3 separate regions of the Homo sapiens genome follow, and regions 2 and 3 are each linked to region 1. Evidence: fine-mapped QTL for protein levels in blood plasma. A gene starts in region 1. Each other region holds a variant in brackets. All regions are shown on one strand. Distances are between the middles of the regions.

What was found. PIP is the chance, under the fine-mapping model, that this variant and not a neighbour inherited with it causes the effect. The UK Biobank Pharma Proteomics Project read protein levels with antibody pairs (Olink). The fine-mapping took linkage between variants from a reference panel, not from the people measured, so its PIPs are less certain.
Region 2: its variant is fine-mapped to the plasma level of the LRRN1 protein (UK Biobank, PIP above 0.99). The variant lies in the coding sequence of LRRN1. If it changes the protein, the assay may bind it differently, which can mimic a change of level.
Region 3: its variant is fine-mapped to the plasma level of the LRRN1 protein (UK Biobank, PIP above 0.99).

What each region holds. Positions count from the first base shown.
Region 1 is chr3:3,792,974-3,803,684 of GRCh38, reverse strand. It overlaps LRRN1 (leucine rich repeat neuronal 1), which reads right to left and starts at 4,254. Exons shown (of 2, transcript NM_020873.7): 1 at 3,766-4,254. It overlaps LOC100130207 (a long non-coding RNA gene), which reads left to right and starts at 2,810. Exons shown (of 6, transcript NR_149025.1): 1 at 2,810-2,984. RefSeq lists silencers at 1,106-1,400, 3,934-4,043, 4,184-4,273, 4,284-4,353.
Region 2 is chr3:3,840,911-3,851,621 of GRCh38, reverse strand. LRRN1 (leucine rich repeat neuronal 1) reads right to left here. Exons shown (of 2, transcript NM_020873.7): 2 at 1,788-7,258. The coding sequence starts at 6,980. The coding sequence ends at 4,830. Among named protein-coding and RNA genes, the nearest start is that of LRRN1, 47 kb to the right of the region's middle. The variant G/A (reference allele first, on the strand shown) is at 6,428.
Region 3 is chr3:3,761,405-3,772,115 of GRCh38, reverse strand. The region is part of intron 5 of LOC100130207 (a long non-coding RNA gene); the gene reads left to right. Among named protein-coding and RNA genes, the nearest start is that of LRRN1, 33 kb to the left of the region's middle. The variant C/T (reference allele first, on the strand shown) is at 6,022.

The DNA of each region.
Region 1 (10,711 bases):
ATATAATTTCATCCTGAATTAAATATTAATCAGAGCTCTATTCATGAGTTAAAGATACTTTCATTGTTCCCAGAAACATATGATTCTAAATGATCATATGATTCTACAATGGAATTTGCTTTATCTCCAGATTGGCTTAACCCAAAACAGATGTTCAGCATAATTTTTTAAAATTAAATACAATATTTGAATAACCTGACATTAGTGCTGAAATGAATCATTCGGGGAACTATTATTTTGTAACTTAAAAATAAATTTTAAGTAAGCATTGTGCAAGTCTCGTAAAACTGGCATCTGCATCCTATAATTTACCATATTTTATTTATGACTTATGGCCTACTTATGGTGGTATAAAAAGCCCACCATTCTGATTATTTATCATTATTATTTATATTCCACTGGCTTGGGAAGTAGCAATATAACTCCGTAGAGACCGATTTTCTTTAGTACCTAGTATATTCCCATGAGTGTCACTGCTTTAGAATATGTGGTAATGGCTCTAGCAGTTTAGATCAAGAAGGTGGCCTTAGCACAGACTAACCAGAGAGAGATCAATGGTTGAGTTTTTCCTTGCTTTCCCAGAATTTCAGACATTAACCAGAGCTAGCTGAGGTTATGTTTTAGAAACACAGTCTGCAGTTGGATCTGGTCTTGAGATCTTTTATTTAGCAGAATGATCCTTTTCTAATAATTAAACACTTTATCAGTTTTATTTACCAAGGAATGAGTTCTAATCTGTCCTTTCATTAGACTTGCAGAATAACGATTACACAGGCAGGTTAATTGCCAAAGATAAGGTTTCACAAATGTGAGGGTCATTTTTAACTTACCAGGTTTCAAAAATATCTAGATAACTTTACAACAAAATGGTTTATAGTCTAGAAATGTCAAGTTTATTTTAAGTTACCCTTCAACTCTATCAGGAAGACATCAGGCGTGTAGAGTCAAATTAAGAGTTTATTAGAATGATTTGTTACTTTCTGACTTCTATATAGCTCTAAGACACAAAATGCAAACTTGGCTATAACATTTTCTTACTTAAATTTGATTCAATTCATTTTTCCCCATCCTGTGAAAATATTGCCTTATGTATAAAAGGCACTGAACCTGCAAAAATAACTTAAAGGAACATGTAAAATAGCAGACTAACATCTGTTGTCCACCCCTCCCCCGAAACACTGAGCCCTCCAAAACAATGTTGTCTTTTTTTTCTGGCGGGGGTTGGGGGGGTGTTGTATTTTAATGTCCCTTTCAGTGAATATATAGAATACTGGGGCAAATGCTGTTCCGTGAATAGGTTCTTTTTCCCTTCAACAGTGTTTGAGGTTGACAAAAGAAGAGGCCACTGGGGCTGGTTAGTCGTAGGTATTAATATAATCGCCTGCCTCACGTGCGGCCCACACTGCCTGCCTTTTGTTCAGCTGTCGCACAACGCCAAGAGGTGAACAGTGCAGTGTGGTCACGCAGCTAATGTTAGACACGGCAGAAAGGCCCTTGCTCCAGAGTCTACTGCACGACTACCTCCCCGTTCACTGTTATGTGACCTGAAAACCACTCGGGTAACTAGGGTTGGGACAGTTGCATCACCTGCAGTTCTACAGTTTGGTGCCTTAAGAACCGAAATGACTTTGGCTAGACAGTGGACATTCTCAGCTAGACAGTGGACATTCTCAGGAAATCTTCATGTCGGTCAACGACAACGATCTTCTACTATAATGAATAGCTCTGAAGATGAGGACCAAATTTGAGCAAGAGTCAAATTATTAAAAGAAAACTCGAAAAGTTGAGGGGTCAATTCAGAAATCACTTCAAGCCGCCAGAAGTGGGTTAAAGTTACTGTCTGCTTCACACAAACCTTTTCCTAACTAGCTTAGAATATCCAGCTTGAATATTGCACGAATATATACAGCCAGGTAAAGAGCAAGCAGCACTTTGAGCTTTCAATACAATAGCACTTAAAGAATTTGGCTCCTGAATAAAGGTGTCAGCAAACCATGGAATTCCCAAACAGAAAAACTCACACTGCGTCTTTATTCTCTTTTCTTAAGGTCTATTGTTAACTGAAGACTCCTTGTCTTTTCAAATTCCTTCATGTGAATGGATGAGGCCAGACATCTGCCAGGATCCGCTCACATTTGCATGCAAATCAGAGACTTCGGGACACATATGGCCCTGGAGCCAATAACACTTTTACTCTAGATTTATACTGATCAAAGTGCCTTCCTGAACTTTCCACTCCTCCAGCCCTAGCTTTTAAAAATGAAATAATGAGCCTATTCCACTAACATGATTTAGATTGTCATGGCAAGACAAAACAAAACATGTTGTCTTTTAGAAAATCCTCCACGCAAAAGCCAGAGTCGGCAGCACCTGTTCCCTCACCCAATTAGAATTCCACTTTTCCTTTACGATTTAGGTTTGGGAATGAAAATACTTACGGCGGGATGGGATTTAGACTCTTAGCCTTTGCCTGTGAGCTTCAAGTGCTTCAGAACCATTTGTACCCCGGCCAGTCGTTCACTCACGGCCAGGCTCTGTTCTTGGCGCTGGGGCCGCGGCGGTGGACACGGCAAGCGAGGTCCCCTTCTCCTGGATCCGGCATCCGGGCCGAAGCGCCTGGTCCGCGTTTCCGCGCGGGCTCCCCTGGAACCGTCCCGGGACACGCGGCCCTCTCGCTGCTGGACTTTTCCCCGAGCCCCAGCTTGCCAGGCAGGGACTCCCTGGGCGGGCGGCGGGGAAGCGCCGAGTCGGCGGCCGCCCACACCCCTCTCCACGCAGCACAAAGGACACTCGCCGGCAAACTTTCCTCGCTTCTGACCCGGGCCGAGCCGGGAACTCAGCGCCAGCTCTGTTCCTGGCGGGGCTGAGGCTTCCCTCACATTCCAGGCCACCTGGCAAACGTCCTGAGGCTGCCACTCCTTCTGGGCTCAAGGCTCACGGGCTGAGGTCTGTCCCCGCGTGGAGCTCAAGGCTCACGGGCTGAGGTCTGTCCCCGCGTGGAGCTCAAGGCTCACGGGCTGAGGTCTGTCCCCGCGTGGAGCTCAAGGCTCACGGGCTGAGGTCTGTCCCCGCGTGGAGCTCAAGGCTCACGGGCTGAGGTCTGTCCCCGCGTGGAGCTCAAGGCTCACGGGCTGAGGTCTGTCCCCGCGTGGACCGCCGAGAGTTCGGTAGATCCTTCCCAAGGCTCTGACTTCAATACTTTCAGTGCCTTGTCAATTATACCCCTTGCCCCTTTCTCTTACCAAGGCCACCGCCAAGACACCCTTTTTCTTTCCTCTCCCCGTCGCCCGCCACCTTCCTTGCCCTCCTCTTGGCCCTCTTTCCAGCTCCCTGGGCCCCCTTTCCGCGCTGCTCTCCAGCCCCAGCTGCCTTCCCCGGTTCACATCCCGGCAGCCCTCCTCCCTCCCCGTCCCCGGGCACCTCCCTCCCCTGGTCGGCCCCTGAAATCCAGCAGGCTCGGCTCCGGTCACTGCCTTTTTTTGCCTGTTTCTATCTGGCCTGCCTTCCCAACTATCGCTCTCCCACACCTTTTTTTTTTTTTTTTTGGCAAGGGGGACGGGGGGAAACGGGGCACTATATTCTCGTTTCCCGACTTCGTCATTTTCCCCAGCTCCGTGAGCCGCGCCCCCTCGTCCCCCTCAGGCCCGCGATCTTACCCTGAGGTTCCCCAGACCCCGTAGGGTCTCCCACGCCACCAAGTTTGCCTCGACTTCCCCTCGCTGCCTCCCACACCTCCTGCCGCGGCGCGGCCGGCCAGGGACTTACCCCGAGGCCCAGCTGGTGGGGGTGTTGGGGTGCGCGCGGACCCGGCACCCACGGCGGCGGCGGCGGCAGCAGCAGCAGGAGGAGGAGAAAGACGAGGAGGAGGAGGAGGACTAGCTGAGCGGCGCCTCCTTCCCAGCCCGCAGCGCGCACTGGCTCCTTGGGGCACCCCCGGGAGAGCACCAAGACCGGAGACTAGGCGGCGACACAGGCAACCGCTGCTGCACGGGGCTGGGCTCAGTCGGCTCTCAGAGGCCAGGGCAGGGGGAGGCAGGACTGGGAAGGAGGGTCGGAGAAGTGGGGTGCAGAGGGCGGGGCAGCGAGCGGCCAGGTCCGGAGGAAGGCGCCCCAGGCGCCTAGGGATGCCGCCGCCCGGGCTGACGCCGTCGGCCCCTCTCCCCGCCAGGCGGGCGCTTGCAGCCGCGGGCGCACGGGCCTCGCCTCGTTCACCGGCTCGTTGCCGGCGCCCGCGGTGCGCCCCGCTTTGTGCTCCCCGCAGCCGGCGTGCACCTGGTGTAAGCAAAGGCGGTCAGCTGATGGGCCGCGCGCGGATTGGCTGCTCCGCCGTCTCCTCCCCTCCCGCCCGACCCTCTTCGCGGCCTCCCGCCCCCGCCCTCGGCGCGGCCCCGTGCTGGGCACCATCTGTGGACCGCCCAACAAAGGCGCAGCGCGGCGGGGCTCGGGTGGCCGGGCCGCGGTCGCCGCTTTTTGTCTAGGGGACGGCAGGCTGCGGCTGGGCAGGGAGGCGAAGCGCACTGCCGGTTTTTAGCAAAAGACAGACCAAAAGAAAATACACGTCCGTGCTAGGAGGCCAGCTAGGCACAATGGGGCCCCATCTCTTTGCGGCGTAGAACTCGGGCTCGGGGGCTGAGAACCAGACACAGTTCGGCCTGGGGCTGTGGGAGCCAAGTTTCGGGGTGAAATCCGACCCTGCGTCTTAAAATACAGGGCGCGTCCTCGGGCTGTGTGTGCGCGCCCGGGGGCGTCCTCCGCAGACCTGGCCCGGGCCGGTGTCCCTGCCGCGGGAAGGAGGATTCGGACGCTTAACTCAGCGGCGAAGTCGCTTCCCATTGGAGGAGGCTTTCCGAAAACGTTTCTGAAACTTTGAAATTACAGCTTTCTGATTTGTGAGGGGTGGAAGTTGTGTTTAAACAGGCGGCGAGGGACTGAGAAGGCAGTGTTAAGTGGAGGTGTCTCCGAGGAAGGGGAGGAGGGTGGGGACGGAATAGGTCTTCGGAAACTGCGCGTGAACCTGCGTCTCAGCTTCAAAGTCGCCAGCCGGAAGCAGGGCTTCAGAAAAGCCTTGGCACCCTTTATTGGGGGAATCGGCTTTAAGCGAAAGCATCATTAGCCCCTCAGTACTGAACAACTTCTGGCAGAGGAACGTGGTGACATTTCATTATGATGTCTAAACTTAGAACTTCTGGAGAATTTGGAAGGATACATTATTCGAGAATCATCCTTTGGATTCTTCAAAGCCACAGGATACATTCAATGTCAGTAACCATATTCTTGATCCCTGTAACATTTATTGGCGTTTCGCTTAGGTCTCTGATAAATGTTTGACGTCTTTGTGTGTCTTCACACTTTGTTATCCTGAAACTGTGTCATGTAGACATAAATGGTCACAGTTTGTCTTAAAAGTCTTTAGGAAAAGGTGATACTAGCACTTGGGCTAGAAGGTCGTGCAGAGCAGAGGAAGAAAAAGGCCCACTGCTGTCTACAAATGAATGGGAAGATTTAAGATCTTTCAAAGCAAGTTGAGTCTAGACCCTTGCCCAAGTTTTGTAACATGATTTTGTCTCTTTCCCCCCTTTTCATGCAGATTATCCATGGAGTTAGCATGCAGATAGCATGGAGTTTGTCTGATAGAAGTTGGGCTCTGGTGGAAGTACGGAAATTGAATGGTCAGGGAAAGATAGAATGCAGGTTTCTTAGGGAGTCTCTATTAGGTTTCCAGCCTGCCTTCCTGGGAGTGGAAGAGAGATGAGGTTGTGCCCTTCAAGGAGGAGCTTTACAGAGGTAGGTCTTGGAGGAGCAGTCGGAGCAATTAATGATGGTGAGAGTTGCTCTTGGGAGGCCAGATCTAGAACAGCCTCCAGGTTTTGGAAGAGACTTCATGAGAATGGTGTGAGTCAGGGACCAAGGTGTGAATTTTGAAACCAGGCCAACACTGCTTAGGTCCCAGCCCTGCAATTTATGAGCTGTGTCCCTAATGGCAAGTCACTTTATCTCTTTAAGGCTTAATTTCCTTGGCTCTAAAGTAGGGTTAATATCAGTACTTATCCCAAAGGATTGTGATGGTTAAGTGGGAGTAAACATGTAAAATGCTTAGGACAGTGCTTAGTATATAGTAAGCATTCAACGACAGATGTAAGCTCTAGGCATTATTAGGCAGGTATTGAAGACTAAAACAAGACATCAATTCAGACAGGTGGGATAATGATTCCGCATGTGACAGAATATCTCAAAGGCACTAGCTGCTCCAGTGGAGGAAATGGACTCTGTCTCTCCACTGTTCGATTCATTTCTTTTCAAATTAGCATATCATTTATTTAAACTAATTTCCCTCTTCCCCAAGGCAAGAGTGAGAAAGGCAGCTTTTCCCATTTCTACTTGACCACTGCATGCATTTGGTTCCAGACAGAGAGAAGAGCATTATCATTAGGAAGAAATGTGTGTCAGGGATGGGGGAAGGAATTTGGGTGAGAGGATGGGGCTTGCTGTGGACAGAAGAGGAAAAATGAGCATGACAATTATGAAAGAGTCTGAAATGTGGTGTAATTATTAGAAATTTGCTGAATTGCCTGAATTGGTAATTGGTCCAAATTTTAGAAATTACCCTTTTTTAACTCTGCAAAGGGGTTTCGGGACTGTCTTGTTAACTGACACTTAAAAGCTCCTTGTCATTGGGATGGATGAAGAGGAAACACGCATTTTTGCATCATTGGACGAAGAGGAATCAATGAACCAGCATAACCAAATCTCTTACTTGCTTCTTGCTTAAAGAGCTCAAATCCATCTGAATTACTCCTAATGAGCTCACCCAGTCCTGGGATCCTGAATTTATTAGTTAGTAAAAAAGCACTTAATAGTTATTTATTAAGGTGTGGTAGAAGACCTTGGAATTTTTGAAGGAGAACGGAATTGGAGACAAGAGCCCAAGAGTTCCCAGGAGAGCAAGGTCTTATTGTTGATGTAAAGAGTTCTTGCCCCTCGATTGGCTGTGTTGAGACACTACAAACCCCTCTGGATTCCCCTACCAGCCCCTTGAGGTTCTTTAGCTTTGGTTTGAAGGAACATTATCATTGGTGTTAGCCTAATTGTACTGATCTATGTGGTAAATGAGGAAAAAAAAGAAAGATGAAACTTCAGAAGACAGTCGTATTTGAATAATCTTTAGAAGAACATCTGTATTTTGAAAAGAAAATTATCATATGCCTCTTAAAACTGCAATTTTTCAAAGTTGAAAATATGTCTCTCTCTAATTGAAATATTAATAGAGTACCGGTAGTCAGAGTTCTTTCCAATTTCTGAACTGAAATTATGATTTTAAAACAACCACCACCAAGCTCTTAGAGGGTGATGACTGTAGCTTAAAATTTTGTGACTATTGTGATCATTGTTAACTTTCATACCAAATGTATTGTTTCTCTAAGAATTTTTGACAATGAGTGGGTTTACTACATATACGTAGTTCCTGTTCTTCTCGGGTTTTGTTTGTTTGTTTGTTTGTTTACTGCATATGAAACATCCCAACACAAAAAAGGGATTAATTGACGTTTCTGTAATTAAAACTAGTTTTTGCATTTAAGCTTAAAAATTTGACATAGAACTAAAGTGACCAACCATCTTAGTTTGCCTGGGAATCTCCAGGTTTTAGTCCTAAAAATCTCAACATCTCAGGTCACACCTTAGTCTTGGATAAACCAAGATGGTGGGCGGTTCTAAATAGAACTAACATTAATAGGTTTATGGTGCTGTTACAATTTTAGTTGAGTTGCAGCTTTGCAGATATATCAAATAATGTTTTATTCCTGACTGAATAAAGGGTCCTGTTTCCACTTGTAGAACTTAGTTGTTGCAGAGATGTTGACAGTCATTGTATTGGTCCATTTTCATACTGCTATGAAGAAATACCCAAGACTGGGTAATTTATAAAGAAAAAGAGATTTAATGGACTCATAGTTCCCATGGCTAGGGAGGCCTCACAATCATGGCAGAAGGCAAAGGAGGAACACAGGCACATCTTACATGGCAGCAGGCAAGAGACCATGTGCAGGAGAACTGCCCCTTAGAAAACCATCAGATCTTGAGACTTATTCACTATCATGAGAACAGCACAGGAAAAACTCACCCTCGTGATGCAATTACCTCCCACTGGGTCCCTCCCACGACATGTGGGGATTATAGGAGCTACAATTCAAGATGAGATTTGGGTGGGGACACAGCCAAACCGTATCAGTCATCAAATCCAACTTCTTTATTTTGTAGATAAAGAAACTAAGCCCTAGAAGAGGAACTCTGCCAGTCTATTTACAAAGCCTGCACTGAAAGCTAGACCATATACTCTTTGGAGAGGGATGATGTGACCAGCTCATAGACTAGGGCCTATACCATGTAATAGGTACTCAAACTTTTTTAAAATAAATGAATCAATAAATGAATGTCTTTATGTAATCGGGTCACATTATTTCATGAGTATTTTCTTCATATCATTAAAAAGTCTTTGAAGCTATAATGCTCAATGGCTGCATAATTCTACCAACTTTTTGTTGGTGAGAAATAAGGACTCTCTCAATTATTTGCTATCACATATAATAAACAAACTTGTTTAAAATGCTATTTTGGTTATTGATCTATAGATATAAACTACACTTTGGATTATCAGGTTAACATATTCAACTTTTTCTGTTTCCTTACTGTTTACCTTTAGCCAGCCAAACGTTATTAAAAAATAAAAATATTTGTTTGCTTATGTAAAGATTTCGGTTGATAGAATTTTAGAATTTTCTTTGTTTTTAATTGTTTGCTCTCCATTCTGATTTCTCTTTTGTCTGTATAACAATAGTTAACATAAACTAAGAACTAACTCTGTGTCATTACATTACACTTAGTAGGGTTTTTTTTTTTTTGTATTGAGAGAGACAGTCTAGTGCAACGATTCAGAGCCAGAGCTCATGATTTGGGGTCCCTAGATTTACATTCCAGCCCAACACACTGTGTGAATTTGAACAATTTACTTAAGCTCTCTGTGCCTGTAATAGTACCTGTATTGTGGAGTTCTGTGAGACTTAAAGAGGTGCGTATGCAGCATACCTATGTAACAAAACTGTACATATACCCCCGGAGTCTAAAATAAAAGTTGAAAGAATAATAATAAAAAAGATGCTCAACATCACTAATCAGGGAAGTGCAAATCAAAACTACAATGAAATACTACCTCATACCCATTGGGATGGCTATTATACAAAAACAAAAACAAAAAACAAAAAACACCAGTGTTGGCGAGAATGTGGAGAAATTGGAACCTGATATGGTTTGGATTGGTGTACCCACCCAAATCTCATGTCGAATTGTAATCCCTAATGTTGGAGGTGGGGCCTGGTGGGAGGTGGGGCCTGGTGGGAGGTGATTGGATCATGGTAGTGGATCCTTCATGAATGGTTTAGCACCATCTCCCTAGAGCTGTTCTTGTGATAGGGTTCTCATGAGGTCTGGTTATATGAAAGTGTGTAGCACCTCCCGCGTCTCTTTCTTCCTCCTTCTCTGGCCATGTAAGACGTGCCTGCTTCCCCTTCACCTTCTGCCATGATTGAAAGTTTCTTGAGGCCTCCCCAGCCATGCTTCCTGTACAACCTGCAGAACCGTGAGCCAATTCAACCTCTTTTCTTTATACATTTCTCATTCTCGGGTATTTCTTTACAGTAGTGTGAGAACAGAATAATACAGAATACTTGTGCACTGTGGGTGGGACTATAAAATGATACAGCCACAGTAGAAAACAGTATGGGAGTCCCTCAGAAAATTAAAACTAAAATTACCATATGACCCAGCAATTTTACTTCTGACTGTGTGCCCAAAAGAACTGAAAGCAAGGTCTCAAAGAAGTATTTGTCCACCCACATACATAGCAGCATTACTCACAATAACTAAAACATGGAAGCAACCCAAATATCTATTGAGGGATGACTATATAAACGAAATGTGGTATATACATATGTATTAGTCTGTTTTCATGCTGCCGATAAAGACATACCTGAGACTGGGTAATTTATAAAGGAAAAGAGGTTTAATGGACTCACAGTTCCACGTGGCTGGGGAGACCTCATAATCATGGCGGAAAGTGAAAGGCACATCTTACGTGGCAGCAGACAAGAGAGAATTGAGAGCCAAGTGAAAGGGGCTTCCCCTTATAAAACCATCAGATCTCGTGAGACTTACTCACTACCACGAGAACAGTATGGGGGAACTGCCCCCATGATTCAATTATCTCCCACCAGGTCCCTCCCAGAACGTATGGGAATTATGGGACCTACAATTCAAGATGAGATTTGGGTGGGAACACAGCCACACCGTATCAACATACAATGGACTATTATTCAACTTTAAAAAGGAAATAAATTCTGACATACCCTACAACATGAATATGAAATGAGGACGTTGTATTAAATGGAGTAAGTCAGTTACAAAAAGACAAATACTGTATTATTGCACTTATATGAGATACTTAAAGTTGTCAAAATCATACAGAAAGTAGAACAGTGGTTACCAGGGCATGCAGAGAGCAGGGAATGTGGAGTTTTTAATAGGTGTAGAGTTTCAGTTTTATAAGATGAAAAGAGTTATGGAGACGGCTGGTAGTGATGGTTGCATAACGTTAGGAAAGTGCTTAGTAACACTGAACTGTACACTTAAAATGGTTAAGATGGTAAATTTTATGTTGGTA
Region 2 (10,711 bases), 48 kb before region 1:
CCTGACTCAAATGCTGAATATTTGGGAGTTATGTGCTCTCTATTCCTGACCTAGATTTAGCTTGTGGACCATTATACAGTTGGAAAACTACTGGTTTTAGTCAGTCAGTCCTGAGTTAAGTCTCAGTTGTTTCTTACCAGCTGTGAGATTTCAGGCAAGTTGCTTGGCTCTGTGAGGCTGAGTAAACACTATTCTCTAACATAGGGACGACATGGGCAACTGAAAGGATTCAATGTAAGTAATCTCTGTGAAGCTCCTAGCAGAGGGTTAGATGCACAACAAATGCTTCTCCCCACTTAAGTCACAGCTGTAAAAATGTAGTCCTTTCTGCCCCAATTACATGGTTTGTTTCCCTTCTCCTCATGACCACTGTCTTGTTTATATGAATGAGACGTGGTAATACGCAGACTGATGCATTAAAATGCTACCTTATTAATTCAGGACACCCCCACCCCTTACTAGAAATTCATGATCACTCTGTCAGGGCCCAGGCTGAAATTTACTTTGTCCATCTAATCTTATGGGAGGGAGACAGGGAGGCCCAGGTGGAAAGGAGAGGCATGATCTGACGCACTTTGTGGCCAGAACTGCTTGCATGAGGTACATGATACTGGATTTGCTTCATATTTAATATATAACTGACATAATGGGCTGTCAGGAGGGCAAATGCATAATGCCACTTTAATGTCTTACGGCATCCATATAAACTGGGGAGGGGGACTGGATGATTTCCTAAATATAAACACATCCACAAACTCCACAATTTGGTAATTATGCAAGAGCCATTGTCTGGCTGTTCCCTGTGTTTTCAGGCATGTCAGGTACCCTTGCAAATTGCTCAGTTTATATGAACTTCACATTTCCGCATTTAAGCTTTGGAGCTAAACACTTGAGTTTGTCATTAATTTTATAAAAGCTTTCCATGGTTTCCTGCTAAGGAAAGAGTTTGGTGTCTTCTCCACAAAAATCTATACATTTCAAAATTTTAGGAGTGTGTAACAGAGAATAGTATGGGGGAGTTCAAGATTAGAATTAAAATTTAGCCTGATATAAGTATAGTTTTGGAATGTACCTCAAGATTCCCAGCATATAAGGTTTCTTAAAGAAGAAAAGATAAATAAATTTGAAGACATAAAGAAAGCCTTCATTGTCATCTCCCGCCGTCAAGTCTCCTAGGAATTCTTTAATATGAGAAACCCATTTAGTTCTGTTTACCTGTTCTGGGCAATGTTGAACCAGCAGACATAAAAATCCTTAGTTCCCTCAGCATCTCCTTTTTACTAAAGAAGCTGGTATCAGTGCTTATGGGGGAAGTGGGGGTTGGGGCAGGGGAACTGTCCACACCAGATTAGATCAAGTCCTGCAGAGATTCCAGGCCAAAATTATTCTAGACCTCCGGATGGTGATTCTGAATCACCAATCTTTAAAGAAACATTTTTTTTTCTTCCAAGCTAATCCCTTTTGAATAACAATAAAAAAGTCTATTTGCAAGCAAGGCGAGAGTGAAAGAACTGAGGTGAAGAAAGCATTTCCAGTTGTACTTAGAATGCTTCAGAAGTAGTTACATTTCCCTTTCCAGTGAATAGAAAGGGAAAAAGTGTGGTTTTTCCCAGCAAACTGTTGGAGATATAAAATGCTTCCCCCTACCCCACCAATGGTGAAAACAGTAATAAAGAAAAGAAAATGCCTTGGAAAATGAATACAGAAATAGAAAACAAACACCAAGTAAAGGGTTGACTATGGCGTCCTTAGCAAACAAATGAATGATTGAATAAATAGAAACCACATGAGAGAAAATATGCACTTTGATATTGTTTGCAAAAAAATAGAGATGATTCCTTTTTGCCAAATCAGAAACACTGACAATCAAACATTACATTTGTTTTTATATCCATGGCATCAGTTCAATTTTTCATTAATTAAATGAGCAAGTTAGGGAATGCCTGTTTTAAGAAACTGCTCCAAAAATAACCTTGAAAAATCAGGTTAGAGATACACTATATACCCTGAAGGCAGCAGAAAGCAAAAGGGAAAATATGAAATTAGAAAGTGACCTATAATAACCACTTCACTGTTAAAGGTGACATAACATTCATTATCCATCAGGACCTAGTTTGAGGTCTAATTTCACTGGCTGTCTAATTTATGAAATTAAATACAAATGAGAAAATACTTGGCCAAGGAAAAAAGTACTCTATCATTTTGTTTTCTATCAGCTGAAAATCAGCTCATTAGCACAGACAGGGAAAAGTAAGTTCCAGTACTTTACTGAAGAAAAATGTAAAAGGGGTTTTTCCCCCCAAACTGGGCTGGCAGAAGATATTGTTGATGAAAAATCTTAGATTTCCCGGTGCTTGCTATATCTTCAGAATGGAGAAACGGCTGAGGTTTTTCCCTTCATTTATTGCACCCGTATTTAAGTGCTCATTCTGTGTAAGTTCAAATGTTTGCTTTATGGGCCGAATGAAACCTCGCAGATTTGCAATTGCAGGCTGCTGAGGGTCTAATGCATCAGTGCCATCCATTTTCATGGTTCACAGATGAACAGGAAAGTTGTAACATGGTCCATTACTCTGCAGACGTTTGAAGACAAGAATTCCTCAAGGGAAACACCTCAAGTTTGCATTCAACGCAGCTCCAATTCTCTGTGTTTCCCATACATACTTTGCAATACTAACAGTAGAGACACCGTCTGATCTGCCCTGTGCTAAAATGTATCCTGAGTAAATGGGAACTTGAGGATGTACTGCATTTTTGAAGCAGGGGCACTAGAGGTTATTCAGAACTGCAAAAGAGGGGCCCTGCACAGGAACCTAACAGGCTGCCGGGCCTAGAACAATCAATGGAGTGCAGAGCGCTGAACTGGCAGGAGTCCGAACTGGGTAAGCTGCAAGCCCTCCCTGGGCCCAGGTTTTTCTCACCAATAAGTGAAGGCTTTGGGAAGGGATACCTCGAGCTCAGGTACTTATTTTTCTGTTGCAGCTCATTTGTTTCAAGATCTGAAATTCTGTTTGCCAAAACCCCTTAAGAATGGGAAGAAAGTGATTTTTTTTAATAAAGTGATTCACAAAAGCAAGATACTGCCAAAGAAAGAAATACCTCAACCTACATCACCTGGACTTTCTTTCTGCCAACTTCCTTGCTTTTGCTTGTCTGGCACCTGTCTGATGGAATGCTGTGTGCCTGGCGGCAGCTGCCTTTTGAAACAACCTTTATTTTCAAATGGGTTCTTCTTTACCTATTAAATCCCATCCCTCCCTCTGCCCTTTGTGGAACTGGCCTTCTACCTAAACCTAGTTCCATCTGCTCTAAATGTTACATGTTTCCTCTATAATCTTGAAACAATTCTCCAAAACTGTCTATATATATTTGGATGAAAAGTTTGAACTGTACGGAAGTTGTTTTGTTTTCTATTAATCATTTACTTGTCTCAGCAGATATTGCCACACAGATATAGAGACTAACACGGGTCTAAGCATATAGACAACTGTTAAAAAGAAATAACATGTCATACAGTTTGTGACACTCCACAGACGTTTTTGTACTTTGATGAAGAATGTGGATACTACAAAAGAAAATCAGGTTTTAACAAAACTCTTACAGAAATGACATATCCAATATATTCATATATATATACACACGCATTGTGTGTGACAGGTTGGGATGTGTGTGAGTATATATGAATATATTGGTGTATATATATATTTACCTTTATTTATGCATGGGATACAACAATACACCTTTTTTTCTTCATATGAACCACCCTCCCACTGCCCATTAGGTGCTAGTCAGTACTATTTAAAATACAGAAATCCTGTTCATTAAAATATCTTAATTAAAATAGACATTTCTTCCCTTAGAAAAAGAATTAAAACCTTTTAGGGCCTAGCTTTAAAAAGCAACATGCTACAGCTGATTTATTTTGGTAGTTGTTTTTATGGATGTGAAAAATATTACCACTGCAACTAGCAAGAACTATAAATGATACATTATTGCAAGTGTTCTAAAAAATCAGAACAAAACTAATTTATTATAGTTCTGTCTTCATTATACACCACGTGTTGGTGAGTTAAACACAACAAACTTGTCTTTTCTTTTAAAAGTGTCTACTAAAGATAAAAAGAATAAGATAACAATTAACATGTAGTTTGTTACATTAAAAAATCTGATATACATATTTCTATTGCCTGTTAGCTTGTTCTAAGCCTCTTTAACTATTACAACAAAAAAAAAAAAAAGGAAAGAAAAAGAAAATTCATTGTTTAAAGGCAAACATTCAATTCAGTTGATACAACATTACAGTACAGTCAACTAACATCATTCAACGAAGGTAACAAGTCTAGCCTTAGCTTCTTGAGTTAAAAGTCTATAGACCAGATTGCTACAAAAGTTTCAATGCTGCTTCAAAACCGTATGTTAGCTTTTTGGAGGACAAAGTACTTTCTACGGATGGCTTCAGAAGGGGTCATGCTACTGGTAAAAGCACAGGGGAACCCCATCCTGTCATTAATCATTTTATTGAGCACTGTAGTTAGAACAGCATTATTGAGTTTAGCACAACAACTAAAATAAAATAATAATATAATAACAATCATAATAATGATAAGAATAAAAACCAAACACAGACTGGAAGCCTAGAGTCGCTGGCAGCCGTGTCAAACCCTTGCGATACGCTATACTAAAAAAATTTGAAATATCCACCCGTCCTCTCCACTCTGCCACAAACTAGCAAAGTCAAAAATACAAAAGTCTTCAACTTGTTCACTTTTGCAGAATAAAGCAAAAACGTCTTTGTGCTCCTTACTACCAGAAGCAAAATATCCTCTGAGTTACCACATGTAATAGCTTCTGGATGTGTCGACCTGGGTTGGCTTGGTGTCTGCAGAACCATCTTTGTCTTTCTCGCTGTCACCTTCCCAGAGGTTAATGAGTGGTGGGTACAGCTCATTTAGTGGGATTGAAGAGGTTTTTTGCATATACTTTTTTAATGAGTGGTGGTAGTTTTTTCTCTTAAATCTTTTGGCAAAGTACACAGCAATGGACGCAAGGCTAATGACGGCAAACATAGACCCCATTACTGCAGCAAGGGCTGTACTGGTTTCTTGATCAGAGATGTCCACTGCGAAGGCGGCATTTTTGGTTGTGACATTTACGCATGACTTTTGAGTCTGCTGATGAATATTGGACACTGTGAGACACACTTCATAATCTGTGGAAGGCTGCAGATGCGTTAGGTTGTATTCATGGACATCGACTGGGACCCTGGCAGTATATGTTATGTGAGGGTTATCAATCTTCATGGTGGCAGACGACCATTTTAAGTTTGACGTCATGACATTGGAATTAACTTTCCAGGACACTAAGATGGAATGGGATTCTGTCTGCTTGACGTATATTTTTAGCACCTGGGTACCATCCAGAAGGGTCCCATTAACCTTAATTGTTGCCACCCGAGTGTCTGCCCCTTGGACATTCTGGGCAACACATGTGTATCTTCCTGAGTCTTCAATTTGTATGTTAGATATTTCCAAGGTACCTTCGCTACTTAGCTTGTATTTATCTGAAAGGGTTTCCACAGTTATCTTATTTCCAATGGGAGTGACCCAGTAAATTTCAGGTTCTGGCTCAGCCATGGCTCGACAGTCTAGGAAAACCGTCGTGCCGATATCCACGTTTAAACGATTTGGGAAGCTGTCGTGAGATATCATTGGGAGGCACTGTTCACTCGAATCCTGGATTAAAACTTCCTTCACCTGGTGCCCTTTATATTCGGGCGGCATGGCACAGAACATGGACAGGGGCTCCATGAAGCGGATGTTGGTTTTGTTGGAGTTAATCCAGTGGATCACACAGTCACACCTGAGGGGATTGCTATGGATACTGATCTCACGCAGATTGGGGAGGGATTCGACTGTCTTTTGGTAAATGGCATTCAAGGCATTGTTGTTCAGCATCAAGCTTTCCAGAGCAGGGACACTTCGGAAAGCCAAGCGGTGGATGTAAGAGAGTTTAGGGTTATTGGTGGCTTCCAGCTTTGTGAGTTCAGGCAAGTTATCCAGGGCATAGCGGTCGACAGAAACGAGCTCGCCCATATTGTTGATTCCCAGTTCTTTTAACCGAAGCATATTTTTGAAGTCCCCTTCTTGGATTTTGTGAATGGGGTTTTTGTTGAGGTCTAAGAATTTCAAATTTGGAACTTTTTGCAGGGCAAGTTGAGGGACTTTAACCAGTTTGTTATCATAAAAAGACAGGCTCTCAAGGCTATCCAGACCCACCAAAGCATTTCCAGGAATATCAGTGAGATACATTCCTGCCAAAACTAAGCTTCTCAAATTTGCGAGGGGTTTGAAGTTCATATCCAGAATTCCAATCACAGGGTTTTCTCCGATCATGAGAATTTCCAGGTTGGGTGTAGAATCAAACCAGC[G/A]ACTATCAATAACTTTCAATTTGTTGGAGTTCAGGTGGAGCCTTAATAGATTTTTTAAGCCTGCAAAAGCATGAGCAGAAATAGTGCTAATTTGGTTGTGGTTGATGTAGAGTTCTTGAAGGTTGCTGAGGTCTTGTAGACAGTAATCAGTCATCTCGGTAATCTGATTTTCCTCCAAATGCAGCGTTGTGAGCTGGGTTAGGTTTGCCAGCCCGACCTCCTTAATGTTAGTAAAGTTGTTTTGGGAGAAATCTAGTTCAGTCAAGTTGAAAAGCTGCTGCAGCTCATCCACAGTCTTTGCGATGTTATTGCTCTGTAAGAGAAGCACTTGTGTGTCACTAGAGAGGTTACTGGGAATCCTTGTTAAGCGGAGGTCATTGCAATCAACAGTGGTGGCTTCTCTGTAAGTTGACTGTGGGGTAAACCAGGGACGAATTTCACATACGCAAAGTTGTGGACACTCACTATTCTGTATGGAAGACTCGGTTAATGAAGTCATTAGTAGGCCCAGCACCAATTGGCAAGCTGCTATAACAAAGCTCATCCTAGCCATGCTGGCTTGCTGAGCAAGCTCAACTCCTGACACCCCAAAGTTTTAACAAAACGTGAACACTATATTGTGATATGTAGGACAGCGAGCAGAAAATGTAAACATTCAAGCAAAGTCTTGGTTGAGCTGTGTAGAATTCCAGAGTCCAAAGGGATGGTTTTCAGGAGTTTTCAAAAGGCAGAAAGCAACTTGGAGTCTTTTAACTGTGTCTCTCAATTCCAGGCATGTGCACAGGTCCGTGGCATGAATTATTTCAGCCAAATTGAAGTCTGGAGATGTGCCTGAAAATTAGATTAGGACAGATGTTATGCTTATTCCATATACTTTCTACATTATAGCCTTTCTTTTGTTTACTAAAAAGGCATAGTCACTCGCAAATCTAGTATTGAATACATTCAAAATCCATTGAAGATAACCAAATAAGCTTTTAAATTGTAGGACATTCTTACTATATCCCACTTACTATACTAAAACTAGTTTTAGAACTCCTTCACTTTTACAATTAAATTGAGATTCCATGTACCACTAGTCATATATGACTGTGTACATTTGTATGTATACACATGTAAAGTCACTAAACATGCACACACACACACACAAATGCACACACTCATACATACTTAATAGGAACACTAAGAAAAAGCCTGCAGATGTCTTTTCTTTAAAAACAAAGATGTCTTTAGAAACTACATGTATTTATAGCTCCAAAAAATTAAAAGTTCATTCCTAGTGAAAGCAAAACATGAAAGGTAGTTTATTAAAGACTCAAAGCTAATTTTTAGTTATTTACATTTTAGTTACTACCTCATTTGTCTCCTGGAAGTCTTTCTTTTCTAAATGCTACATTCTGCAGACATATTCAGCCAATGCTTTTCTAGCTCAGTTATTCCTATGCAAAAAGTTAATTTAATATCCTACAACATGGATGAAAATATCAAAAACATGCTTGAAAGATGCCAGTCATAAAAGATCACCTATTTTATGATTCCACATATACAAAGTATCCAGAATAGGACAACCTGCAGGGACAGAAAGTAATTTAGTAGTTGCCTATGGCCAGGGGTATGGGGGGGGGTACAGTGGGAAGGGTGCTAAAGGCTACAAAGTATCTTTTTGAGATGATGAAAATATTCTAAAGATTGTGGTGATGGTTGCACAATTCTGTGAATATTCTAAATATTCACAGTTATTTAAATATTACATTTAACTTAACTAAAAAAGGAAAACATCAGTTTTGCCTATATTTGAATAGCCACATCAGATCTTGACTGACTGATAAAAGGACTTCATTCTGTCATACCATTGGTCTCCATTAAAAACACAAACATACACAATAGATGTATTTGTATCTCACACAGATGATCTCATTAATCTCGTGAGAATGTCACTCACTGCTTAATAACTGTTGACCATGAACATGTTTATATAACCTCTTGAAGCCTCAAGTATCTTCAGCTATAAAATGGGGTTGCTCATACAAGGACAGTTCTCATAGGATTATTGAGAAAATTAAGGGAATCTATGTAAAGTTCTTAGTGTAGTAGCTGACTCACATTATATGCTCACAAAAGTTAATAATTGTTATTCATCATCTTGTATCTCTAATCCATTTTAGTTTTAGCTAAATAGTGGTTGTCAGATGACAAGTAAAAGAAGGAAAGCTGAGGATATTTGTTTTTATTAACCATCATCTATTGGTTTCAATAAAATCCTCTGAAGTCAGGTATGTACTGCTCACCTGCTGGCAAAGATAATATTAGTAGTTAGTGGTTCCATTTTTTCTGCATTCCAATCAGGTGTAAAAAGCCATTATGGATCCAGTGTTTGTCTTGCTTTCCCAAACTGGGCCATTCACTTGCTAAAGTATTCGAAGCAGAGTTACATGTTTCCTGGTGTTTGTCTTGCTATAGTGCACTTGAGTCTTGAGCACTGAAGGAACTTCAGTGACTAGTGTATTCTTCACTTTCCTACTATAAGGACTTAATAAAATAGAGCATATGTGTTTAAACCCAGTGCTCAATACATAGCAAGCTCTGAATTCATGCTAGCTGCTATTATTAACCTTTCGACTTTGTAAAACGTAGTTATCTTTGTGACTAAGAGTATAAGAATACAAATGGCCAATACTAAAAGTTATGTATTTAATGAGTCATATTTTCACAGTAAGAAGGAAAAGTCCTACAACTTTTTTGTTATACAAAATATGAAAACTGCATTACTGGTCTAACAATAAAAAAAAAAAATTAAATCCAGATTCTGGCAAGTGTGAGACAGGAGTAGGAAATGATTGTATAAGTGTGTTGCCTGATACTAGATGCCTGCTAGTCTGTGGGAGGAAACATACATTTGGCATTCTTCTCCCTCCTCCCCATCTCCAAGTCTGGTTACTTTACCATTTATTATGTAGTCTTGTGCCACCATAAAGAAAGTTTGGCCAATGATGGACCGCATATACAATGGTAGTCCCATACAGTTGTATTAATAGTACCATATTTTTACTATACCCTTATGTTTCAATACACAAATACTTGCCATTGTGTTACAATTGCCCATTGACTTCAGGATAGTAACATGCTATACAGGTTTGCAGCCTAGGAGCAATAGGGTATATCATATAAGCCACATATATCATATAGGCTACATACCACCTAGGTTTATGTAAGTATACTCTATGACATTTGCACAATGACGGAATCACCTAATGACACATTTCTCAGAACACATCCCCATCATTAAGTGACATGCTTGTATTTGCAAAACTTTTCAGTATTATAAAACTAGTTGACTCTGACTTTTATCTGGAAATTCTATGAAATGAAAAAATACAGGCCGGGCGCGGTGGCTCACGCCTGTAATCCCAGCACTGTGGGAGGCTGGCAGGGGGCAGATCATGAGGTCAGGAGTTCGAGACCAACATGACCAACATGGTGAAACCCTGTCTCTACTAAAAATATAAAAATTAGCTAGGCGTGGTGGTACGTGCCTGTAATCCCAGCTACTCAGGGGCCTGAGGCAGGAGAATCGCTTGAACCTGGGAGGCAGAGGTTGCAGTGAGCCAAGATGGCGCCACTGCACTCCAGCCTGGGCAACAGAGCAAGACCCTGTCTTAAAAAAACAAAAGAAAAGAAAACATACCACAGAGAATAACATTTTTATTATTAACTCCACAAATTTATTTCACTCTTGTTTCTGTTTAGAGTAATCTTGAAACAGGTGCACTGGCCACAATACATTGTTAAGAAAACCTCTGCCACAGGTTATTTCTCAGTCATAACTCAAAATAGAAAACCAAAAGAATAAAGCTACCTTTCATAACTGAGACAGAATTTCAACTAATTTTTTTTTTTTTTTTTTGAGACAAAGTCTCGCTCTGTCGCCCAGGCTGGAGTGCAGTGGTGCGATCTCGGCTCACTGCAACCTCTGCCTCCCGGGTTTAAGCAATTCTCCTGCCTTAGCCTTGTGAGTAGCTGGGACTACAGGCACGTGCCACCACACCTAATTGTATTTTCAGTAGAGACAAGGTTTTGCCACATTAGCCAGGATGGTCTGGATCTCCTGACTTCGTTATCCGTCCACTTCGGCCTCCCAAAGTGCTGGGATTACAGGTGTGAGCCACCGCACCCAGCCTCAACTAATTTTTATGTTTCTATTGAATGTAAGGAAATGTACCAAGAAGTAAAATATGTATTAAAGTTGTGTGAGAGACTTCCAAAACAGTCTGTTAGTATTGAGAA
Region 3 (10,711 bases), 32 kb after region 1:
TCAGTGCAAGCAGAATGAAATTGAAATAGTCAAATAAGTTGGAGTAAATACTAAAAATTAACCTTATAGTAATCCAAAGTGTCCTAGAAAATAATTTATTTATTTATTTATTTTGAGACGGAGTCTCGCTCTGTCGCCGAGGCTGGAATGCAGTGGCGAATTTGTATGTATTTCTAAAAAGCCTTTCTTCTGGGGGGAAAAAAGTTTTGTGTTTCAGTCTGAAATACTGCTAATTGGAAACCCAGTCCTGTCATGGAAATGCTGCTATGTCCTGTTTTTTGCATACATTCAATGCTAATGTGTCTCTCCTGGCCTCAGCTTCAAGGAATGTCTTAAGCTATGAAATGATGAGCTTCCTCTCTTTTTGTTGGAAGCAATTCCACATTTCCTTGAATCAGTTTTTGGCTCAGGTTACTACTGCACAGTTATGACTATTTTTAGTGTTTTTTTTTTCTTTTATACTTTAACATGTTCCCCAGAATTATTCTAAAATAGCTGAATGATCATATAATTATTTTCTCTTCTTGTGAAATTCATCTTCCATTGCTTTTGGTGTTATCTCTGTTCTCTAAAACATTGAATAAAGGACATTCATTCATTCATTCATTCAACTATTGTCTACCACTGGAATTGGCGAACAGAGGCTTTCTGCCTGTATCTGTACCATTTGCAGGCTAAGAATGCTTTTTACATTTTTAAATGATTGGGAAAAAATTGAAAGAAGAGTAATATTTTGCGACACATGAAAATTACATGACATTCAAATTTCAGTGTCCATAAATGAGGTTTTATTGGAACAGGGCCACACTCATCTGTTTGCTATTGCTTATGGCTGCTCGTGGCCTGGAAAAACCTCATGGCCAGTCTAGTAACTCAGGACTTCTGCCTCCTTCTCATGGCTCCAAATTTACCAGCACTGCCTCAAGGGCTGTTGTTCCTATGATGTGCCACTGCCTTGATCTATTTCTCTCTGGTCTACCCAGCCCCTTTCATGTGATACCCCAGTAGGGCTCTGCATGACTTGAACCCAAATTTTCCTTTCAGGGTAGATCAGCAGCTCATCAGCTAGCTGTATCCACATCCCCATCGAGCCTCATCTGCTGGTTTGGCATCCCACATACTCTCTGTCTGGAAGGCGAGCTTGGACAATGATGAAATAAAAGTTACTATTTAAAAAAAAAAAAAAGAGAGAAATGGCTCTCAAGTTGAATTTCTCTAATCTTGCATTTGTTTAGCTGATTTTTTTTGAAGCTTAAAGGTAGGAGCTTACTTTCATAATTGTTAAATTTCTTCTGATTAGTTTTGGCCCAGTATAGCTGTCTGTGGAGATGTTTTTGAAACTTTATTTTCTTGGCCATTATACTGCTGTCTTTCTTAGAGTTGTCTGTTCTAAAGATTTTTTTGTTTGTTTGTTTGTTTGTTTTGCAGACATGTGTTCTGCATTTTAATCTGATGTATTGATCAAATGTTTAAGAGCAGTGATCCCTAAACAGAACTTTGTGTCACTATCCGAGAGACTTCTCTCCAATTCAATATTAATCTATTAAGTAACATTCATTAGGAATGATTTTTTAAATAAATGCTAATATCCATAACAATACGTGATTATAGAAGATTGTCATATGTTTTATAAAATTAAGATAAACTGTGTCTAAGCCCTTCCTTTGCTCTAAAAGCTTAGAAGTTCTCTTCAGGCTCTCGGTGAATATAGCAGAGCCAAAAGAGAAATTTTTGGAGTCAGAGCAGAGTTCAAACTCTGTGTCTTCCACTTCATCTAGGGAAGGGCTTCTCTACACCTCAGTGTGGTGGTGAGGGTTCTGTGGAATGAGGGGTACGCTAATAAAGCAATTACATACACACATGGCATTACTAATAGATTCTCCTATAAATGGTAGCTTTAATTATTACCAGTAATAAAATTATAAAGAAAGAAATGAGGTTAGCTTAGGGCAACTTATTCTCAGTAAATTCACACTGGCATCCAGTGGAGAAGAAATTTGTTTCTAAATATCCATATATCATTTTTTGATCATTGGTTCTTGTGGTTTGCATGGGTTTAATATCATGTATACTGTCCTGGGGTTTCTGCCGTCTATTCTTGGCTAAAGTTTGTTATCCCACATTTCTGACTCCAGTCCTTGTCAAATCTCCTATATACTGAAATTCTTAAATATTACTAATGGTCTTTTTATTTTCAGACCCCCTAGTCCTGCGTATAATTTTTTTGAGCATGTGAATATGAACACATGGAAGCAGCCAGATATTTCTGTATAATCTCCTGTGAGGCTTCTCTTCAGCTGAAAAATTGGATATGGGGTTAAGAGCTCTGGATCAGGAGTAAAAACCTCTAAATACTGGTGTTAATTTGCTTCTTAACTAGCTGTGTGACCTGAGATGGGCTGTTTAACCTCTCTTAACACTAGTTTTATTCCTTGGTAAAAATAATTGGTTTCTACCAGATGCTGTCCACGAGTTCCTTCTTGTTCTAAAATCTCATAATCATAAGCAATCTATTCAGAATATAAGAGAAACCCTTTGAAATGTTTATAGGGAGGGAACATGCATGGAACTATTCAGTAAACATACAAGTTTCCTGTAATGACTGAGAAAATTGTGGTGGCATGTATATTCTGTAGGAATTCAGAGAAGAGAGGGATTTATGGGTGTCATATTTTTGGGAATGGATTATCTGGAAGAAGTATAACCAAAAGAGAGAATAGAGATGGAAAAGGGTTGATATCGGAGATTGTTTTTAATTCTTGCAAAATGAAGATAAACTGTATCTAAGCTCTTCCCTTGCTCCAGAAGCTTAGAAGTTCTCTTCATGCTGTCTGTGAGTATAGCAGAGTCAAAAGAGAAATTTTTGGAGTCATACAGACCTTGGTTCAAACTCTGTGTCTTCCATTTCATCTAGGGAAGTGCTTCTCTACACCTCAGTGTGGTGGTGAGGGTTCCGTGGAATGAGGGGTGCGTCAATAAAGCAATTACATCTTGTTGATGTTTTAATCCTCTCCAGGATGAATGTTAGTATAAGATGGCTGCCGACCACTCTTTAGAATACTGCCTTGACCTGATCTCAGAAATGGGCAAGATGGTGCCAATTATTTCCGAGCACACCATTTTGAGACAATATATAATTTTAGTTGGAGTGAAACAACATTCAACAAGTATAGCTGTTTTGAAGTGGTCCTCTGGCCTCAGAAAATTTCTGAGTATTTCTTTTTAGCAACTTTTGAAGGCAAACAACTCAGATAATTGCTACTAAGTTTTTGTTTCTTAATGTTCAATCAAGGTTGAGAGAAAAAACTGTGGAGTAGTAGATGGCATCAGCTTAGGGTGCTCTTTTGAGGGATGCAATGAAATATGATGGTTGGGCATATAGGTTCTGGACACACTGGTTTTAACTGAATAAAGTTAGAGAAGTAACTTAACTTTTTTACCTCAGTTTCTTCATTTTTAAAATGGCCTTAATATAAAACCCATCACTATTTTGTTAGGGTGAAATGTGTTATTACCTACAGAGCTTACACTAGTTGTTGGATTAAAGTAAATGCCTACTAAATCTCATTTATTATTATTCTTAGAGTTTTTGTATGCTCCCACAAATGCATTCACATGTCGTTAAAAGAAAACAGGACTTTATGAAAACTGATGAAACATACTTATGAAATAGTATGAAATGAAAAGGAGAAATGTGAAAAATTCTGGGGGTTTCTCCAGGCATAAATTATGATACATGGGACCATTATATATCCTCCTTTATGTATAGGAGGAATGACTGGCCTCTCTGACAGTCAGTCCCATCACATCTCCTTACTTTTTGAATTGAAAATTGTTATGCAATTTTTAAAAAAGATCTTAGAATTTTGAGTGACCTCTCTGGACCTTAGAAATCATTGTATCATATGACTCTAATCAGTGATTTTATCATTTAAGATTAATTTGTTTATTATCATTGGAATGTCAAAATCTAAACATCGTTTTGCCTAACTTGTGAATTCATTTTAGTAGATCAACTGTGTAAAGGATTTCATTATACAATAAAATAATAGGAAATCTGTTTTAAAATGATTAAAAGGATTAGCTAAAGATGAATGTATTCCTCTAGGAGTTTCTGGCAGAAAAAAAAAAACACATTATTCCCATTAAATGGGTGTAATAGATCTTCCTCTTTCAGAATTTCTGCAACTCTTTCATCTTGCATTAACTCAGCTGTGGAAATCAACACCCAAAGGATGTAGTAGGGTGAGACATAACATGTGGGAATGAAGAAAGCATAAAAGGCATTTAAAAAACTAGGGGTACTGAGTAGAAAATTCATCTGCTACTGCAGGGAATCAACTAACTCATAAAGTGCTTCGTGCATTCTTCATTCTGTAGCAGAATTAAAAGCTAGTTCTTCAACTCTTTGTTTTCTTTTTGAAGGCTTCTGACAATCAATTCTCTGTCCACTCTTTTTTTTCCTCTCTCTCCATAACAATTGTTACTGGGGACAAAATAGGGTGCTGGAGGGGAACAGTAAAAAGAAATAATGGTTTGAACTTAGTTCAGTGTACGTTTAGTATAAGGAAGGAAAGCTCTTGGATGGTGAAGAGTGCTTATGCAGTGAAAGGCTCTTTGCTTGGTATATTTAAAATGGGATTAAGTAAAGTACTAGAAAACACATGCCATGCAACAATGCCACTTTGGCAGGAAGATGGCTTAGAGGCCTCCATAGAGGTTTTCCATCTTAAAGTTCTCTATTTTGGTAGCACAAGACATTAGTTCATCAAATGGTGGAGTGGAAATATTGTTTGCTTATGCAAACCGGCTAGATTTGAAGAATTGAAAACACAGCCAATAAGGAGCTACGACACAATGGTTTGTGTACAAAACTAAAAGACCTTGGTTTCACAGTGAGCCTCTTGCTGGCTGCCAGGCTTAGTTCTCTTCCAGGTAGGAAGTCACCTGTGAATTGATTAAATGTGGATAGACTCAACTTTGTTTATAGAGTTGGATGACACTGTAGAGAAGACACATGCAAGTATTTGTCACCAAAGTATTTATTTGTCAATCATTCTCTACTGTCTTTTTTTTTTCCCTCTTGAAATACAACTTGGCCTTCTCTGCAAAACCCATTTTTTTCTACTTGAAGGACAGATCATAGTTGAAAAGACACAACAAATTCCACATACTATCCTTCCACAAAAGGATTCAAAACCACTGAGTATCATGGAAAACAAATTTTTATAACCTTTTCAAATGTTTTGACTTGTAACATCCTTATGTTGGACTTAATTTTCACCTCCTGCCTGATTATCCATCTTCACCTTGACAGGAAGAGCGTGTTCTGCTCTGTGATCTTCTCTCTTAAAATGAGTGTGAAAAGTAAAGGCCACCTGTTACCATTTAGAAGTACAGTTTTTCTTTAAATCCACTTGACATTTCAAGCCTTCACATTTGCTACTTTGCAATAACATTTTCCTTTATGGACTATGTGGTTTCTAGAATGGTGCCATGTGGGTCAAAATCTAGCCAGGAATGAATGGTGTTAAAATCCCTAAGCTTGAGGTTGTTTTAGGTTTTCATCTCCTACAGGGGAAAGATTATACTATGTCCTTATGCAGAAATACATGAAGCAGATTTCTTCTTATATACCAGGTCTGATGAGTTGGAAATGACTGCCTGGATGGCTGCATTGAGATTGGCTATTTATGGACAGCCAAGAAAAAGTCTGCACCAATTTGGGATGTGTGTCCTGGGTTAGGGGTTGGGCAGTGTCCTGTATTAGCCTTTCCTTCTTTAGAAGCCTCTTCCAGGATGTCACTGCTATACTACACACCCCCACATTTTTAGCTGAGAAAGTAGCATGGCCATGGGTGTGTGGCAACAACTTCTGCCCTGCTCCTTCCTCCTCTTTCCCCTATATACTGCCTTAGACTGATGGATATTCGATCCCTGTGCATTTTCCAAACAAAGAGGGACAATTACTGGCCTGGATTGAAAAGCCCAGGCAATGTGATATGTGCTCATCAAGATAAA[C/T]ATATATCTGCAAGCCTTCCCTCTGAGCCTTAGGGGGGTCTTAGTCACCAAAGAAGTGCAGGTTGCAGCAGTATTTGCTCTTGGTGAATTTTCAGAGGCTAGGGTAATTCCACAGCCTGTAAATGGAGACAAGCTTCAGGCTGCAGACTGGGCAGCAGTTGTGGGCAGATAAGAGTGTGTCGTTCCATGCCAGAGGTTAATGGGAATTGTCAGTGTGGTGGTGATTTTTCCAATCCTTTGTTCTCATTTTGACAGAGGTTGTGGTCTGAGCCAAACCTAGGATCCTATTTCCAAGAACACCTGTTGCTTCATGGATCAAATGTAAGAGATCCTTCTTGGGAACTCCTATTCCAAATAGCACCATGTCTGTCCGTCGCATACTGTCTACATTCCTGACATACGCTTTCCCCTGGCTGAGCCTTTGGTCACCAAATGGCTAATCTCTTTGCTGCATGTTGTTTTCTTGCAAAGCTTTAAAAATATTTATTTCCTTTTTGTTTCTGAGTAGTATATAAATATACCTAGAAATATATTTCAAGTCAGCACTTAAGTCTCTCTGCCGGCTTTAGCAGAGAGTTCTGTGTAATAATAATCCGTGAAGTAATCAAAGTTCAAGTTTATTTTAATATTTATATTTAGAATACAATCAATCAAATGCACATAAACACACCCACTCAGTACCCAAGTCTCCTCTCTCTCCATGACCGGTCTTCATGTGAGTCCAAACCCGGGAAAACCTGGCCCCTGAAATTATAAATCATTTGTACCCAGTCACTGAATGACTTGCATTAGTTTTCAGTAGATTTTTTTTCCTTCAGCTTATCTGAATAGCTGCAAATTACTTCTATTATTTTTAAAATGAAAATATTTAGTGGACCAATCTATAACATGACAGGTTCCATTTAGCCTAAAGAGAGCAATTTACAATAATAAGATCGTTTCACCTGGAAAAGAGAAAGGGCATCTTGAGAAAGTAAAAAGTCTTGTTGGCTTTGTTTTAAAGGTATTAGCATTGTGTTATTTGTTATCTCCTACAATAATGCCATATCCCACTTATTGAGTGTTCACCATGTGCCAAGCGTTGAGTTAATTTTGCATGCATGATCAGACTTAATCTTCACGGAAATTCCTGAGGCAGTTATAGATTTCTAGTTGATGGATGAAGATACTGAGTTGGAGTGAGAAAGGTGATAAAGCAGCTTACCAGAGGTCACACAGACAAGACGTTGAACTAGAATTTGAACTTAGGTCTTTCTGCTTCCAATGTCCTTGTTCTTTCCTGCTTCCCAATAAAGCAAAAGACCTGGCCTTCGAGCAAACAGTGTTGAGAGATCTCTTTCCAATTATTTAATATCTCAAGTCTTCTTAGTTTTCTGGGCTTGCCTAAGATCTTGAATATAAGTGTCCCTAACAAAAACGAGCCCTTGGTGAGAAGGGTATAGTGAGGGTCCATATCTCCTGGCCATCTAACTCAAGACATTTTCTGGATTTCACCACCTCTTGATAGGAGGTATGACATTGGCAAACCATTTCATAAGACCTTCCTTCGATCACCCTTCCTAGCCACCTTCCATCCTGCCCTCTTTTGTTGCAAAACTCATCTGCAGAGACCAAATCCCTCCTTAACATTTTATTGCACATTGTTTTGTTTTTTATCATGTTTCCCCAAATAGAACCTCTGTCCCTGGAGAAGAAGACTTTATTTCACTCACTGTTGTATCCTCAGTACCTAGAATAGTGTCGTCCATAGTAAACCCTTGCTAAATATTTGTGGGATGAGGGAATGAAAACATAAGGCTTAGTTAGACGGTTCCATTTTCTTGTGCTCATAGGCATTTGAAATTTAGCCAAGAGCCTCTCTCTTTCACATAGCGTATATGATGAGCTGTGGATACATTTTTATGTACTCTCGGGTTTTTGTTTTATAAAATAATTTAATGCATCATTAGTATAGTAATGTTTCATATTCAGGACATATCTATCTGTAAGCCCTGTCCTTTTGAAAACTCAAGCCAATTTGTAATTAAATACGCTTCAGAAATATTGCTGTGATTTATCAAGCAACATCACAGAGCTTGAAAAACATGTTTTCCTCACCTACCCTCTCAAAATGCAAAAAAAAAAAAAAAAAAACCCCATAAAAGATCCATTCTGTTGCATTGCTTGAGCTTTCTGTGAAACCTTTGAAACATTCATTACATTTAGGCAGAATGTGTACATGTTATCTCATGTCAATAGGTCCAGATTTCCCAAGTCCAAAAGGTAGAGGAGAAGAAACTCATGCTTCTACCAGGTTTTGGTGGCTTTGAAGGAGAGAGGAAAAATAGTTCTAGGGTTTTCTGGCTTTGGCTATTCCCTCTGCACAGCAGGATGTTTAAGGATTGGGAGTCAGGCTGCATTACAAACCTTCACAGGAAGCACTATTTACAACGGTGTTAAGTGTCAAATGGTTAAGAAAGTCCATGAGATCTTGTTGCTGGAGAGCAAGCTAGGAAGAAAATCTTTTTATATTCCTAATGTTAATGGAAATGATCTTTCTTGCACTTGGATAAGGGGGGAAATATTTCCTCTTATTTTACTTGCAGAAAGGGGGGCAATTCCCATATTTCATAAAGCCAGTGCATATCAAGTGATCTTCCCTGCTTATGTAGATGACTTATTCTTTTTTTTTTTTGTTTTTTGTTTTTTTGAGACGGAGTCTCGCTCTGTCGCCCAGGCTGGAGTGCAGTGGCGTGATCTCAGCTCACTGCAAGCTCTGCCTCTTGGGTCCATGCCATTCTCCTGCTTCAGCCTCCTGAGTAGCTGGGAGTAGATGACTTATTCTGAAAGGATTTTTCTCAGCCTTTCAGCAGGACTAGACATTCCACTGCCTTTTCTCACCTCCCCATTGTAAGCTTTTGATGTGTGACTCCTTCAGAAAGATCCAAATTCTCATTGACTACTTTTAAGTTAAAGTGTTTACTTAACAGCAAATGATCAATGTTGAGCTAAACAGGGAAGAAATCATCTGTATAGTTACATTTCTTTATATCTCCCAGCACATGTTTGCCTATTTTAAATGCTAACGTGGCAAGCTATGTTGGATAAGCATTCTGGGGTGTCCATGTGTTCGTTATTTTGCAGCATAAAGTGGAGATACTCAATCTTCGAAAATTGCTTTCTGAGATTGGATACTGTATCGTGTCTCGTAACTCATATTTGTTCTTAATAAAAAGGCATTACCCGAGGAATATTCTTGTTATTGCTGGATCAACTCGTTACGAGAAAAGTGGGTTAAGATATATTGACATTTATTCTTTTGGGAAAAGCTGTTCGTGTGTGTGTGTGTGTGTGTGTGTGTGTGTATGTGTTTATTATGCAGCTATTTAACAGTTAGATTGATGTCTTTAGAAAAGGAATGGCTCTTTTACAAGAAAGTCAAGTGTTAAGGGCATGACATGTCAAGGAAGGCAGATCTGGATTTGATTTTTGACTTTAGTTTTCCAGCTTTGGGCAAGTACTTAATCCTGCTATGCCTCCACTTACTTCCTCATCTACGAAATTGGAAAAATAATAACACCAGGTTTAACACAGATTTAGTATGAAGTTTAAATAATTGATTTGTGTAAAGCACTTACTACAAAGCTGAGCACATACTAAGTCCTCAGTTTATGTTAACTTTCGTTATTAGTTCAGTTGGCAAGTGAACAGACAGTGATGCAGACCAGGATTTGGAAAGGGATGGTCAGTGCCCTGTGGGTCCTAATTAATTAATGTTACATCCCCAGGGAAAACTGCTTTGAGTCCCTAAGTTAAGGTAAGCAGCCTCTGGTATACACTTTCATGGCATCTTGTACTTTTTTCTTTATCACAGTTTTAAGACATTATTGGTATGATTATCCACCTAGGGGCTGATAGGGGATGAAAGGCACCCTATCTATTTGGTGCACTGTCCACAGTGCCTGAAACAGAGTGGATGCTCAAACCCATTTGGTGAGTGGACGGACGCATTCAACAAAGAGGTATGAGGAGACCTTGTGTCGCCAGGACCTTCGTAAATGAATGAATGAAGGAAGGAAGGAAAAGAAGGAAAGAAGGAAGGAAGGAAGGAAGGAGGAAAGAGAGGGAAGGAAGGAACTCTCCTGACTTATCTGGCTGCTCTTTTTTTGTGTCCTATCCTGGCTCTTTCTACTTTGCTTGATGTCTAATTGTATTTAGAGTATTTTAGATGTGAAAGTTAGGAGTAGAAATGGCAGATTATCACATGTGATTCTAGGTCTGGAGAACTGTCTTATTGCTTGATTACATGACCATTCTAGAGTCTGCACATTTTTAATCAAGTTTACCCTTAAGCTGCCTCCTTGCATAGCTTAAGTTCAGCCTAAAGGTTTGTCTTTATATTGTGAGCTATAACCTAAATGGAATTGTAAAGAAACTGTAGTCTACTGTTGTACCAATCACTGAATTTTGGCCAATCAAAGGTGACCAAGAGTTCAAACTGTGTTTAAATAAGGGAAATGCAGAGCTGTAACCAATATGGCTATTTCTGTGCCTTGCTTCCATTTTCTGTATATCACTTTCCCTTTTCTGTCCATAAATCATCTTCCACCACATGGATGCACTGGAGTCTGAACCTACTCTGGCTCCGGAGGCTGCCCAATTGATAAATCGTTCTTTGCTCAACTGAACTCCTTTAAATTTGATTTGGCTG